4 linked regions of the Homo sapiens genome follow. The protein of the gene in region 2 interacts with the protein of the main gene of each other region in a biochemical or structural test. Each region holds a gene or a part of one and is shown on either strand. Other genes may lie near its edges.

Region 1 (3,500 bases), on a different chromosome or scaffold from region 2:
TAAAAAAGACATTTCTTGATTTTTTTCTACATGACATAAATTAGAGACTGAATTTTTTTGGCACAAGGGTGGACAGGAGAGCAAAGTTAAGCTATTTAGCCATATCCACTGGGGAAAGGAAGACTTATGTACTGGTCGGCTCTTACTAAGGAGAAAATGCTTCAGGTGCTTCTCTTCCCATTTACCCCTTCTAAAGTCCTCTCATTGTTAATAGAGGAATTCATAAATTTCCTCCACAAAAGAATCTCTCAAGTCATCCCTAACTTTTAAGGATATCCTGATTTCTGAGCTATCATTCTTTGTAGAAAATTATAGCATTAAGAGCATTTAAAAAGACAGTGTTACCTAATTAATAAAGCTATTTTGTGTATATTATTAAAACTGTACTGGCTGGGCCTGGTGGCTCACACCTGTAATCCTAGCACTTTGGGAGGCCGAGGCGGGCAGAACACCTGAGGTCAGGAGTTCGAAACCAGCCTGGCCAACATGGTGAAACCCACCTCTATTTAAAAAAAAAAAAAATTTCCAGGTCTGGCTGCACGTGCATGTAGTCCCAGCTACTCAGGAGGCTGCGGCAGGAGAATCACCTGAACCCAGGAGGCAGAGGTGGCAGTGAGCCGAGATCACGCTACTGCACTCTACCCAGGGCGACAAACAAAGACTCCGTCTCAAAAACAAACAAACAAAAACTATACCAAAAAATTTCAAAAACTGCAAAATGTTAAACCAATTCGTTTATAAAGAAGTAGAGAGGTTAGAGCACATTAATATTCCATTATAATACTTTTCTGGCACCTCTGAATGCCAGAAAACTAGTATTACTAACTAGCAATACAACTAGTTACTAACACAATTAGCTAACGAAAATTCCTCTGAAGTAGTAAAAATTACCTGGGAATGAAGAAAAAAATTCAAATAAATATAGCTATTTAAGAGAAACAAACTGTAGCACACACACAACTTCATTCCCAAAATACCTGAGAGCCAATAGCTGGGAACGTAACTCCTTGTTCCTTAAGGTTCTTAATCATTGCTGATATTAGACTAAGCTGTGGATCATTCTTAAATTCATCTGTCCATTCAACCATAAGAGCCTTTAATTTTTCACATACTTTAGGATGACCCTGTAAAATAGAAAAAGAAATAAAAGAGCACCAATTTCCTAGCCAATGATTTAATACAGACATTTTAAATAGTAAAGTTATTAAGTGATGTTTTTTGAATCACAAGTTATGCATAGCTATAGACAAGAAAATATAGTTATTCGAAATAAAACTAATGTTCACACTATGAAAAAACCCATCATATATATCTCACTTCAAATTAAAGCATTAAATAGGTAATAAGATTTTGGAGATCTGAAAGGACTTTTCAGAATATTTTGCAACGAAGCAAGGTTTGTACATCAGTAAGACAAGGAAAAGTGTCTGCTTTTTGCAAAGCAATAAAAAAGTGGGAAGGAGAGAATAAATGATACAGTTCCTTTATTCCAAATTCCTGACTTCTTAATGTTCATGACTATGCATTTTTTCCATGATGCTTAATTATCTGGGGCCTAGTTTGAGGTACACTGCATGTTAATCATTTTGAAAATTTAATTTCTTCAAAATAACATAACTTTTTTTCCTTTCTTTTCTTTTCTTTTTTTTTGGTTTGTTTTTTGAGACAGAGTCTCACCCTGTGGCAGAAGCCGGACTGCAGTGGCTCGATCTCAGCACACTGCAACCTCCGCCTCCCAGAGGGGGGTGGGGGATGCGGTTCAAGCGATTCTCTTGTGTCAACCTCCCGAGTAGGATTACAGGCGCGCACCACCATGCCCAGCTAATTTTTGTACTTTTAGCAGACGCGGGGTTTTACCATGTTGGCCAGGCTGGTCTTGAACTCCTGACCCCAACTGATTCGCCCGCCTCAGCCTCCCAAAGTGCTGCGATTACAGGCATGAGCCACCGTGCCCAGCCCAAAATAACATAACTCTTTATGGTTGATGTATAACAAAGATTCAAGTTAGTCTAAGGCAGGTGTGCAGGGCATTATTCTTCCGTATTAAAGAAAGAGATAAATGTAGTGAGTTTTCAAAATAAATTATTTTACTCATTGCTTATTAAGGGAAAAAACCTGGCCAGTTCATTAAAATACTGATGTATCTTCATAGCGGCAATAATTTGAAGTCTTACTATTTGATGTAATAGATATAAAGAAACCTTCACAGATACCAGAGAAGAAATAACTCCTCTATGAAATGTCATGAATGTATTTCAAACCAATGCTTACTAAATAATTGGCTAAAGCTTTTAAAAATGGAGAAGGTTAGACTTTTAGATTACTCTATTAGAAGAAAAAAAATTCTTTCTAAGTGCACATGTAATCTGTATTTTGGTCAAGGAGCATATAATGGATTTGCAAACGCTTTATTGAGACTATACATGAACTTAATTTGTTTAATAAAAGGAAATTTTTTAAAAGGGCAGGATGTTGGCTGGGCGCGGTGGCTCATGCCTGTAATCCCAGCACTTTGGAAGGCCGAGGTGGGCAATCACAAGGTCAGGAGTTCGAGACTGGCCTGACCATCCCCATGGTGAAACCCCATCTCTGCTAACACTACAAAAACCAGCCAGGCGTGGTGGCGCATGCCTGTATTCCCAGCTACTCAGGAGGCTGAGGCAGGAGAATCACTTGAACCCGGGAGGCAGAGGCTATAGTCAGCTGAGATCACGCCACTGTACTCCAGCCTGGGTGACAAAGAGAGACACTGTCTCAAAAAAAAAAAAAAAAGGCGGGATGTTATTAAGTACAAAACCAATATGTTCACTGTAAAACATTCAGAAAATAAAGAGAAGTCCTCTTGCCTATAGGAAGTCGTTTTTGGAAATGGCTGCTTGCACTATTATACATAGGTAAGTATACCACATTTTTCACCTACATTACAAAAAACATGGTATTAGAATCTCTTCATAAACAGTTGTAATCTCGATGGACATTCAGGACATTAAAAGACAATGTTTATTAATTAGTAGAAAATAAATATTAACTGCATAAAGCAGGAAAGGGAAAGAATTATCATTTAACCATGATGTTCGAAAAGTACAGAATTTTACATTCTTACTATATTTCTATACTGCTATTTTTCTACTGTAACCTGGAACTATTCATTTTTCCCAAAAACATGAGGCATTTTCCCTTTTAACATACAAAAACTTTTTCTTGATTTACAGTACTCCCCCTAAAAAGGCCAAAAATAATTACTTTTAGAATGCACAAATTTTTACTGGGGAAACTCACATATTACTAATTGAAAATTGAAAAATTTCTTGAACTGTGTGACTAGAATTCTACAGTTGAGTGGGCAGTTGTAGGGTCCCCAGTTCTCCCTGCTTTCTTTCTGTGTCCCAATAGAAAAACAGAGTGCCTTGTCCCGCTCTGTGACCTAGCCAGCTGCATGTTTTCCACCATAGGTTTGGACCCAAACTGGGGCCTTGAACATTCTCAGGCACTGATAAAGT
Region 2 (3,500 bases):
GTGGCTCACACCTGTAATCCTAGCACTTTGGGAGGCTGAGGCAGGTGGATCACCTGAGGTCAGGAGTTTGAGACCAGCCTGGTCAACGTGGTGAAACCCCATCTCTACTAAAAATATAAAAAATTTTAGCCAGGCATGGTGGCTTATGCCTGTAATCCGTGCTACTCGGGAGGCTGAGGCAGGAGAATTGTTGGAACCCGGGAGGTGGATGTTGCAGTGAGCCGAGGTTGCACCACTGTACTCCAGCCTGGGTAACAAAAGTGAAAACTCTGTCTCAAAAAAAAAGAAAAAGAAAAAAAAAAAGGGTGGTGGGACACCATTGAAGGCTTAAAACAGAAAGTGACAAGCAAAGATTCTTTTTCTAAATAAAAGGTTACCCTGGCTACTCTGTAGAGAATAGAGAGTCACAAAGAAGGGACCAGTAAGGAAGTGTTTGTCTCCCTTCTTGAGAAGGATCATCGCAGATAGGGCAGGATATGGCAGTGGACATAGAACGGGATAGTTGCAGGATGCATTTAAAAAGTAGAACCAGGCTGGGCATGGTGGCTCACGCCTGTAATCCCAGCACTTTGGGAGGCTGAAGTGGGCAGATCACCTGAGGTCAGGAGTTTGAGACCAGCCTGACCAACATGGAGAAATCCCGTCTCTACTAAAAATACAAAATTAGCCGGGCGTGGTGGTGCATGCCTGTAATCCCAGCTACTCAGAAGGCTGAGGCAGGAGAATCATTTGAACCCAGGAGGCGGAGGTTGTGGTGAGCCGAGATCATGCCACTGCATTCCAGCCTGGGCAACAGAGCAAAACTTTGTCTCAAAAAAAAAAAAAAAAAAAAGTAGAAGTAAAATTCACTAGAGAAGGAAAGGAAGAAGGAAGAGTATGGAGTACAGAACCCTAGGGCCTATGTAGGGGGCAAAAGAAGGAACCAGGGAAGGAAAATAAGGGAGCAAGAGTGGTCATTGATGTCAAAGGTAAGTCAGGCTACCACGCTTGCAGTGGGAGCCAGTGTGGGAGAAGGAGTCTGTAAGGGGAATTCAAGTGTATCCAGAGTAAGTGTGCTGTCTGATGTGTGGCAAGTCAATACCCAAGACCTGGGGGCGGGGTTTATTTGTTGGGCTGCAGAATGAGGAGATGAGAGGGAACTGCAAATCCGTCCTCCTGAGGAGTTTGGAGCTAGGGTTTTTAAGGATTTTGGAGTGGGCTGGAATGTGGAGATTGTTGGGTGGTCAGAGAGAGAAAGGTGAAGTAATGGGACCCGGAGATGAAAAAACTGTATTATGCTGATTTTATTTCTCTCTGAGGGTCTTCAAACTGGTTGGCATCAGCTGTTTTACCAGAATTTGGGATCTGAAAAATATCTCAAGCAATTCTTAAAAAAAAAGCCTTATGCTTCTAATGTCAGAGATACTATCTTTAGAAACAATAGGGATGCAAATGGTCAGTATCTAGCGCTGTGTGACTTTCAGTTACAAGGAAATGTGTCAAAATCCAGCCTGATTAATGTTTTTTTTTTGTTTGTTTGTTTGTTTGTTTTTTTTTGAGATGGAGTTTTGCTCTTGTGGCCCAGGCTGGAGTGCAATGGCATGATCTCGGCTCACTGCAACCTCTGCCTCCTGGGTTCAAGTGATTCTCCTGCCTCAGCCTCCTGAGTAGCTAGACTACAGGTGTGTGCCACCACACCTGGCTAATTTTGTATTTTTAGTAGAGATGGGTTTTCACCGTTTTGGCCAGGCTGGTCTCAAACTCCTGACCTCAGGTGATCCGCCCACCTTGGCCTCCCAAAGTGCTGGGATTACAGGTGAGCCATCGCACCTGGCCTAATGCTTAATTAAAGTTATATTTCTGTCCATAGTTCTTGGTAACCCTCTGAAGACAGCTTCATAATGAAGAATTTGGGTAGGTTTTGGGTGCATGGGGCTTCAGGGAGTCATGAAGGTTGAGGACATAGGAAAGAATCACACATTTATCCATCAGAAGATCATTGGTGACCATTGGCCGGGCGCTGTGGCTCACGCCTGTAATCCCAGCACTTTGGGAGGCCGAGGCAAGTGGATCACGAGGTCAGGAGATCGAGACCATCTTGGCTAACACGGTGAAACCCCGTGTCTACTAAAAATACAAAAAAATTGGCCAGGCGTGCTGGTGGGCACCCGTAGTCCCAGCTACTCAGGAGGCTGAGGCAGGAGAATGGCGTGAACCCGGGAGGTGGAGCTTGCAGTGAGCCAAAATCGCGCCACTGCACTCCAGCCTGGGCAACAAAGCAAGACTCAATCTCAAAAAAAAAAAAAAAGCTGTTGGATCGGTGTTTACTAAGCACCTACTCTAAGCCTGTCACTGTGTTAGTGTTAAGGATTTGTGTGAATGACCTCTTTTAGGTACTTCATTTTACAGATGAGAAAAATGACGCTTAGGGAATTAATCACCTTAACAGGTCACACAGAAAGAAGACTATGAGTTCTGTCTGACCCAGGCCCCATGCTCCTAAACCTTGCATGACACTGCTCTTTGGAAAGCCCTATCAGGACATCAGCTAGAGAGGAATGAAAGGTTTTTAGAGCCCAGTGATGGCTTACCCCAGCTGTATGAATTTGTTAGCAACCCAGTTAAATAAAGTCTTCTGATTTTTCTATAGTAATCTGGCAGTTTAGGAATGGAGAGGTGGGGGAGGGAGGGGAAGATAAAAGATAGAGTAAGAGTTCAGTAAATTAGAAAGGGGATTATTTTGTTGTTCATAAGTGTAATGATTGGATTTTCATGCACATGTATGAGATGTGCCTCCATCAAGCCTTGTTACTACAAAGTCAGTGCATTACCCATCTGATGTGGGAAAAATAAATCAGAAAGAGGCCTCAGCTTGTGGGAATGGTGGAATGCAATGGCTTGTGTTGTTAAGCAAAATTGTGTTTTACAGTAAATATTTATTGTGGTTCTTTTGATGCAAGTTATATTGGGATATGGAGGAAAATGCAAAAATGGATAAGATGGTGTATTTGACCTCTACACGGTTAGAGAGGAAGGTAAAGTGCTTCACTATAGTGCTTGATTGAAGGGTATGACAGGGGTGGAAGGTGGAGAAGTATGGGAAAGTATTATACAAGTTAGCTTGTAGAGCGAGGGTGGCATTAGGTAGGGCTGGCCAGGGTGGTGCCAATCTAGCTTCTCAGGATGACCCCTCAGGATTTTGGTCACTGTGTCGTCAGTCTAGTCTTGGGTCACAAAATGTATTTTGTGGAGAACCTGGAAATAATTAGTCTTGAAGACAGGATTGTATTCAGACTTGAGTGATTGAGCTCAGAATGGAATGCCAATTTATTATTTTAGAATGAAGGATTCCTTTTCCGTTAACGGGATTCTGGAATTTGTTAGGATAATTGCTTTTCAATATCAAGAGATCTGGCAATCAAATTTAATAATATCAAGCTTGCTTGGTGAGCATGGATTTATAAGATAGAATGGTTTGTGGGGGAGAATATAGTTACAAAAAAGATTATTGTTTCCCATAA
Region 3 (3,997 bases), on a different chromosome or scaffold from region 2:
GAAACCCCCCGAAAACAAATGGGGGTCAGGGGCGGAGGCAGGTAACACAGCCCCTGTAGTCACATGCAGAGTGAATTCGAAACCAGCTCTGGAGTCACACTGCCTGGGACTGAATCCCACTTCAGTGCTATGTGACTAAGGCAAGGAACGTAAACTCTCTGTACATGTTTCCTCATCTGTGAAACAGGGATAATAATAACAGGACCTACCCCCTTAAACCAGTTGTGAGGAAATTAAGTAAGATAATTCTGTATATGTGGAGAGTTCAGGATAGCGCCTGATACATAGTAGGTGTTCTGCATAACTGTGTAAATAACTGTAAAAAATTACCTGCTATTGTTACTGCTCCTTGAGCCTCCATTGACCTCACACTCCCTGCCCAGGACATGATACATGCTTGGAAGACTCAGATGTCTGTATGCCCAGAGCCTAGCCCAGTACCTGGGACTTACGTAGTAAGAGTGGGGCGCGGGGGGCGGGGGCGGGGGGCAGCAGCAGGAAGGGGAATTGCTCAATACACGCTCCTGGAAATATTAATTTTTTGAAGTGGATGCATGCAATGCACTGAGCCCCCCTCCCCTACAAACTCTCCCTCCCACACCCAAGCAGCTCCTCCAGGACTCAAGGGCTGGTGAATGAATCTTTGAATGATAAATATTCCTATTTTGATGTCCATTAATAATGAGCTTGTAGGCAAGATGAGTCATCTAGACCTGGTTCACGGATATCCCTACAATTCCAGAGCCACAGAGTCAACGATCCTGGACATTCATTCATTCAACAAACATTAACTGGGTGCGTGGCAACCTACTGATTCATGAGTTGGAAGAGGATAAAATATTATATAGAAGCCATACTTAATGTTATTGGACACGTGTTCCCTAAGCGCCTATCCTCTGATCTTGTGCAAACTATACTTATGTGACCTTGTTTATGAATTAATGACGGCCAGCTAATCCTTCAGAAGACTCCAATTTTAGGTTTGCGCAAAAGCCCTTCAGCCTTTACAAACGAGGACCTGTCTTTCTGGGTTGAGCTAACTCCTCTGCTAGTTAAAAGCTTTCCTGTGTCTTTAAAAGGGGGAGGCATCCTATCAAATGGACCCTAACGCATAGGCTGAAGGCACGTGAAGTCCCACCCACTTTCTATGACGTCCCGCGTCCCGGCTTCTGATTGCCCGCCTGAGACGTCAATCGCAGGGCGTGTGTCTTGCTGGGACACAGTGGAGGTCTAACCTTTGGTTTGCGGAGCGGTCGGGTGTATTCTCCGCCGCCCCCACGCCCTCGAGGTCCCCGCCACCGAACCAGCGGCGGAGCCCGCCCGCGCCTCCCGCGGCATTCCCGCACCGGATCGCTCCTCGCTGGGGCGGGACCTGGCCTGGCGGCTCTGGTCACTATGGTCAGTGATCGTGGGGGATCGCGAAGGGGGAGCGGGCAGGGGGCGCGGTGGGCGGGGTCGCTGCCGGAGCGGGTGCACCCGCGGGACGGGGGTCGGACGCGAGGCTCAGCCCCCAGCTCGCCCCCGCCGCTTTCCGACCCCCTGAAATACGGAGTCCGGACGGATACTGAGGGCCAAGTCGCGCCCCCCTGTACCCCGTGGATGTGCAGCTGAGGAGGTCCAGCTCGGCCCCGAGCCCCCGCCCCCAGCGTGTCCGCCCCAGGTGGCCCGGGGCGCCGCCTCGACGGCGCTGGGTGGGCGCCCTCGACGGAAGCAGGGACAGGGAGGCTGCAGCACTACGGGTCGCCTCCTCTTTGTTAAGTAGCCCCCCAGTCAGCAGTCCACGGCCCCACCCACCCGACGGCTCGGCCGTCAAAGACCTCCTGGCCCCTGCCCCAACCCCAAGGGAGGATCTAGGGGTTGCACGGGGCACCAGGTCGTCTGCTCCGTGGGCGACTAGACCGTCTCCATCTTTGGAGTCAGGACCCACCTAGAGAGGATGCCTCAAGTTGTGAGGCGCATGAGTTAGGGGTCGGGGAAAAGAAAATACTCAGGAATCCCTGATGGAGAGCCTTGTCTGCGCAGAACGAGGCCCAGAGACCCTCTGAGCCAGGCTAACCCTGGGCTTGGGCAGGTGGGGAAACTGAGGCCAGACAGGGCAGGGCTGGTACTGATTGTGGTGGACCTGGGGCTTGAACCCAGGCTCTGGACTCTCAGTTCAGTGCTCTTTGTGTTACATCGGCTCACCTTCCAGGTTGCCGTGGGGTCAGGCATCCTGCAGGGGACTGGGTGGCATGGCTGCCTAAGACCCTTCAACCCTGAGCAGGGGGAGCCTGTGGAGTGAGGGCTGGGTGGCTTGAGTCGGGGCCACACAGCCCCAGGTTCAAGTCTCACTTCCACCTGTTGGAAAGCGAAGAGGCTTTGGTTGGTCCGCTCTCCCCCTCAGCACCGTTTTGCACATCTGTGTCATGGGAACCATGTGATATGATTAGCTGGAGCTTTTCCTGTGACAACAGAGTCCTGGAAATGGGTGTGCACAGATGCCTGGTTCTTCAAGCTTAGCCTCCTCTCTCCTATGACTGGGCAGGAAAATGGGTCACCACGGCAGCATGCTGCCGGGCTGGGGCATGGGTCAAAGCCTGGTCATGGCCTGGCACGATCTGGGTGTGGCATAGGCAGCCAGGGCACTCGAGCTGGGACTGTCCTTGCCAAGCCAGCCTGCTGCCTGGGGCATAGCTGGGGGCCTCTGGAGCATCTGGAAGCACCAGCTTCCTGCTTCCACTTGGTGCCCAAGGGTTTACCTGGTTGAGCTGCTCCTGGAAGGCAGCCCAGGTGTTTCTGCATCACCCACCAGGGAGTGGTGGAGCTGGGGTAATGATGGGCTTAGCCACCCGGGAGCTGGAGGCTGGCATGCCCTCTGGCCACCACTCGGCAGCTGAGAGCACAGCAGAGGCGGTAGCTGCTCTTTGTGCCATGCAGTGAGGCCGCTCACTCTGCTCCCTATCTGCCCTGACTCAGGAGACTGGAAGTTAGATGGCAGATGGGGTCCAAAGCCCTCACCCCTCACCGGGGGCTTGGGTGCCTTGGCGAAGGATGAAGTGGTTAACCCACTAAAATATGACGTCTGTCTGGTAATCACAGGGGTGGAGGCCATGCAGGGTCTTTTCCCTTCCCTGCACATGGCATTTATTGAGCACCTACTGCATGCGGGGACCATACTGGGCCCTGTGCTGCATGGTGGGTTTTTATGTTGAACTTGCATTGTGTGGATGGTGGTGACAGAAGGAATATCCTTGGAAAATACAGCATCTTCTTTACTTTCCTGTTTCTACATCACTGGGCTAAGCTTGAGGAAGGGCGCCCCGTGGAAGACACAAAGACACTTGGGAAGGTAGGGGTGAGACAAGGACCAGACCTCTGGCAGGGACTGCAAATAGCTAGGGTTCTCGTGCACTCAAGGTGCATTTCATGTTTGACGAATGAATGAGTCAGACATAAGCAGGAAAACCGCAGGGTCCTATTGTGCTTTGTTCTGTTATTTGTCAAACAGGCCCCCAGTGGGCACCTTTGTCAGGCCTGTGCTGGGCACTGTGACACTGATGAGAAAGACAAGGTGCCTGCCCGCTGTAGGAGCTCACTGCCTGCTGGCCAAGACAGCTGGACACAAGCAGTGTCTGAGCTACAGGTCATGCCTAAGAGGCCTAAGGACATTGGGAACACAGTGAGAGGTCAATATGCTCTGAGGGAGTGGGGGTGTTGGAAGGTTCTGCAGAGGAGGTCTTTTGAGCTGAGTTGAAGGATGTATATGAGTGTTCAAGAAGGATTTGGGAAGGGCACATTCCTTTTGGCGGGTGCGGGGGGACAGTGGGCTATCAGGCCTTGAAGCATGGTCAAGAATAGGGGATTTTGGCAAAGGTGAACAGCCTCTGAAGATGCAAGGAGATTGAGGGAGGCAGGGAAATTGAGTCTAGAAAATTTGGTGGGGTCAGGATGTTCTGTGCAGGGCCTCACTTGCTGTGCTGTGGGGTTTGGGTTTTATTCCACCAATGAGGGGGAAACC
Region 4 (3,500 bases), on a different chromosome or scaffold from region 2:
GACTGGTGAGCAAATCGCTGGCGAGGGCAAGGCTAGGAAATATGCCTGCCTCTCAGGGTCAGGAACATACTGCCTAGCTCCAGGGAAATCTCAAAAGCCAGGCAAATATCAAGAAAATCCTAAATTCTTTCTAATACCCAGGGCCTTCGGAGTTTAAGAAAGTGAGAAATACCTTCTGGTGAGTCCAGTAGAGTTGACTTCGAAGCAGATCACAGGTCAGGGAAAGGAGCAGGTATGTGTCAGTAGTCTGATCGAGATGCTTCAGGCTCGATGCTGCCTCTTCCAGGTGTAACTAAGGAAGCAATCAGAGGGCACATGAGGAAAGGCAGCCAGGCTCTTCAAACAAAACTGGAGTAAATAAGGGTGGCCATGTGGCTCACACCTGTAATCCCAGCACTTTGGGAGGCCAAGGTGGGCGGATCACCTGAGGTCAGGAGTTCAAGACCAGCCTGGCCAACATGGTGACACCCCCATCTCTACTAAAAATACAAAAATTAGCCAGGTGTGGTGGCACGCGCCTGTAATCCCAGCTACTCGGGAGGCTGAGGCATGAGAATCACTTGAACCCGAGAGGCAGAGGTTGCAGTGAATGGAGATCGCGCCACTGCACTCCAGCCTGGGCAACAGAGTGAGACTCCGTCTCAAAAAAAAAAAAAAAAAAAAAGTGGAGTAAAGTATTTACAAGCAAAATGTTCAACATGTCCAATAAATATTACATTATTTCAGATATTATAATCTGCATAGGAGTTATTGATTCACTCTCTAAAATGTCCATTTAACACTTGGTTAACCACTTTTTTTTTTTTAGGACGGAGTTTCGCTCTTGTTGCCCAGGCTGGAGTGCAATGGTGTGATCTCAGCTCACCGCAACCTCCGCCTCCCGGGATCAAGTGCTCTCCTGTCTCAGCCTCCCAGGTAGCTGGGATTACGGGCATGCGCCACCATACCTGGCTAATTTTGTATTTTTAGTAGAGACGGGGTTTCTCCATGTTGGTCAGGCTGGTCTCCAACTCCTGACCTCAGGTGATCTGCCCACCTCAGCCTCCCAAAATGCTGGGATTACACGTGTGAGCCACTGCGCTCAGCCTGGTTAACCACTTTTAGATTAAAGCTATATACAGAGTAAGCAGTAGCTGGGCACGGTGGCTCATGCCTGTATTATCAGTACTTTGGGAGGCTGAGGTGGGAGATCACTTGAGCCCAGGAGTTCAAGACCAGCCTGGGCAACATAGTGAGACTCTGTCTCTACAAAACATTTAAAAATTAGCCAGGTGTGGTGGCATGTACCTGTAGTCCCAGTTACTCGGGAGGGTGACGTGGAAGTGGAAATGGAAATGGAAATGGAAATGACACCACTAAAAACAGAATGCTATAAACAGAATGATGTCTTCTGTTTCCAAAGTCAATATACTAGAGTGATGCAAAAATAGTAAGAGTGAGATATTTTGTGGCAAAGTTATCCAGGGGTAAACACTGCAGCCGTAAGCGCTGGCAAGTATTATTGGGGCAAAAGGGAACAGGGTTAAGCAGGAAAGAGATTACATCACACCTGTGCCTACCAGTGGTCGTTAAGAAGACGAAGTAGAAAAGGGAGAAACTGGAGGCAAGGAGACCAACCAGGAGACACTGTGATAGCTTTACATGAGCAATGAAGCATCAACTAGGGCAACAGAACCAGTTAGGAAATACAAGACTGGCGGTAGGTTCCTGCAGCAGTCTGTAAACTTAATGAACAACTGGTTTTGCAGGAAGGACAAAGATGACTCCCCTTCTTACAGCTGCCTCCAACTGCTCCACACTCCACAATTCTCCAGCCAGTTGTGGTGGTAAAAGGCCGAGAAGCTGCCCCTTTGATATCCTGTCTTCTCAGAGGTGGGCCTCTAAAGCTACGGGCCCCCTGCAGTCCCCAGACTAGGCTGGTTGGGCACTCACCTGGGCATAGCTGGGACAGCCGAGGGTCAGGAGGAGCTGGGTGATGTGGCAGGAGGAGCCAGCTGCCTTCGAGTGGTCCTTCAGTCTCTCAGAGACAATCCGTAGCAGCAGGAGGACCTCCAGAGCCTGCATGGGCTGGTCAGCAGAAGCAGCCAAGTTTACTCCACCCCTGCTCAAGCCTCTATTTCTACCCTCTGCTCCCCAGCCCTTTGGGACCTTGGACTGTAGTTTGACCTCAGGGCCTGGGTGGAATGTAGTTACCCAGATGAAGCAATCATCACCCCACCCCTACTGTTTTAAAGCCTAGATGCCATTCATCATCAATAGCCAGGATTTTCTGAGTTCTTACTATGTGCCAGGCACTGTGCCCAGGCTTACATGCATCAGTGCATTTAACCTTCATAACAAGTCTAATCCCAATTTTACAGTACAGGAAGCTAAGACTCACATGGGTTAAGTTGCTTGTCTAAGTTCATATAACAGGTATGTGGCAGAACCAAGTCTCAAATCTAGGGCTGAGGTAGCTTCCCCTGCTAGAAATATGGTTTAATAGCTCATAGTTAACAGCATGTATAAAGGCTTTTTGTTTGTTTGTTTGTTTCCTAATGTGGAGTCTAGGGTAGAGCTTCAGGAATTTTGTGAAACTCCCTGAAATAAGAATGTACATGGCCTTATAGGCCAGGCACAGTGGCTCATGCCTGTAACCCCAGCACTTTGAAAGGCTGAGGCAGACGGGTCACCTGAGATCAGGAGTTCGAGATCAGCCTGGCCAACATAGTGAAACCCCATCTCTACCAATAATACAAAATTAGCAGGGTGTGGTGGTATGCGCCTGTAGTCCCAGCTACTCAGGAGGCTGAGTGAGCCAGGAGAATCGCTTGAACCCAGGAGGTGGAGGTTGCAGTGAGCTGAGATCACGCCACTGCACTCCAGCCTGGGTAACAGAGCAAGACTCTATCTCGGCGGGGGGGCGGGGCGGAAAGCTGGGTGCGGTGGCTCACGCCTGTAATCCCAGCACTTTGGGAGGCTGAGGCGGGTGGATCACCTGAGGAGATCGAGACCGGCCTGGCCAATATGGTGAAACCCTGTCTATACTAAAAATACAAAAAAGTAGCCAGGCGTGGTTGCGTGCCTGTAGTCCCAGCTACTCAGGAGGCTGAGGCAGGAGAATCACTTGAACCCAGATGGCGGAAGTTGCAGTGAGCCCAGATTGCGCCACTGCACTCCAGCCTGGGCGACAGAGTGAGACTCCATCTTGAAAAAAAAAAAGAAGGCACACATAAGAATGTAAGAATGTAAAATTGTGTCTAAAGGCATCTATGTATTTTTCTGATAGGTAACAAATCATCTAATAATTAAAGCTAACTTTTTTTTTTTTAATGAAATAGCGTGAAACAGCATCTTGCTCTGTCCCCCAGGATGGAGTGCAGTGGCGCGATCTTGGCTCACTGCAACCTCTACCTCCTGGCTCAAGGGATTCTCCTGCCTCAGCCACCTGAGTAGCTGGGATTACAGGCACATGCCACCGCACCGGGCTATATTTTTTTTATTTCTTGTAGAGACGGGGT

Evidence for each region. The genes of interacting proteins can lie anywhere in the genome.
Region 1: of the proteins of RFFL (region 2) and STAM, one has a biochemical effect on the other in vitro, tested with the Homo sapiens proteins (one large-scale study listed by BioGRID).
Region 3: of the proteins of RFFL (region 2) and OTUB2, one has a biochemical effect on the other in vitro, tested with the Homo sapiens proteins (one large-scale study listed by BioGRID).
Region 4: of the proteins of RFFL (region 2) and ESPL1, one has a biochemical effect on the other in vitro, tested with the Homo sapiens proteins (one large-scale study listed by BioGRID).

Annotation. Positions count from the first base shown.
Region 1 is NC_000010.11:17,685,651-17,689,150, reverse strand, and holds part of STAM (signal transducing adapter molecule 1), read right to left. Parts: intron 1,125-3,500; coding exon 978-1,124; intron 1-977. UniProt on the Homo sapiens protein: Involved in intracellular signal transduction mediated by cytokines and growth factors. Upon IL-2 and GM-CSL stimulation, it plays a role in signaling leading to DNA synthesis and MYC induction. May also play a role in T-cell development.
Region 2 is NC_000017.11:35,053,708-35,057,207, reverse strand, and holds part of RFFL (E3 ubiquitin-protein ligase rififylin), read left to right. Parts: intron 1-2,713; exon of another isoform or gene 2,714-2,820; intron 2,821-3,500.
Region 3 is NC_000014.9:94,025,143-94,029,139, forward strand, and holds the start of OTUB2 (ubiquitin thioesterase OTUB2), read left to right. Parts: upstream 1-1,197; 5' UTR 1,198-1,395; coding exon 1,396-1,398; intron 1,399-3,997. UniProt on the Homo sapiens protein: Hydrolase that can remove conjugated ubiquitin from proteins in vitro and may therefore play an important regulatory role at the level of protein turnover by preventing degradation.
Region 4 is NC_000012.12:53,278,299-53,281,798, reverse strand, and holds part of ESPL1 (separin), read right to left. Parts: intron 2,068-3,500; coding exon 1,933-2,067; intron 293-1,932; coding exon 173-292; intron 1-172. UniProt on the Homo sapiens protein: Caspase-like protease, which plays a central role in the chromosome segregation by cleaving the SCC1/RAD21 subunit of the cohesin complex at the onset of anaphase. During most of the cell cycle, it is inactivated by different mechanisms.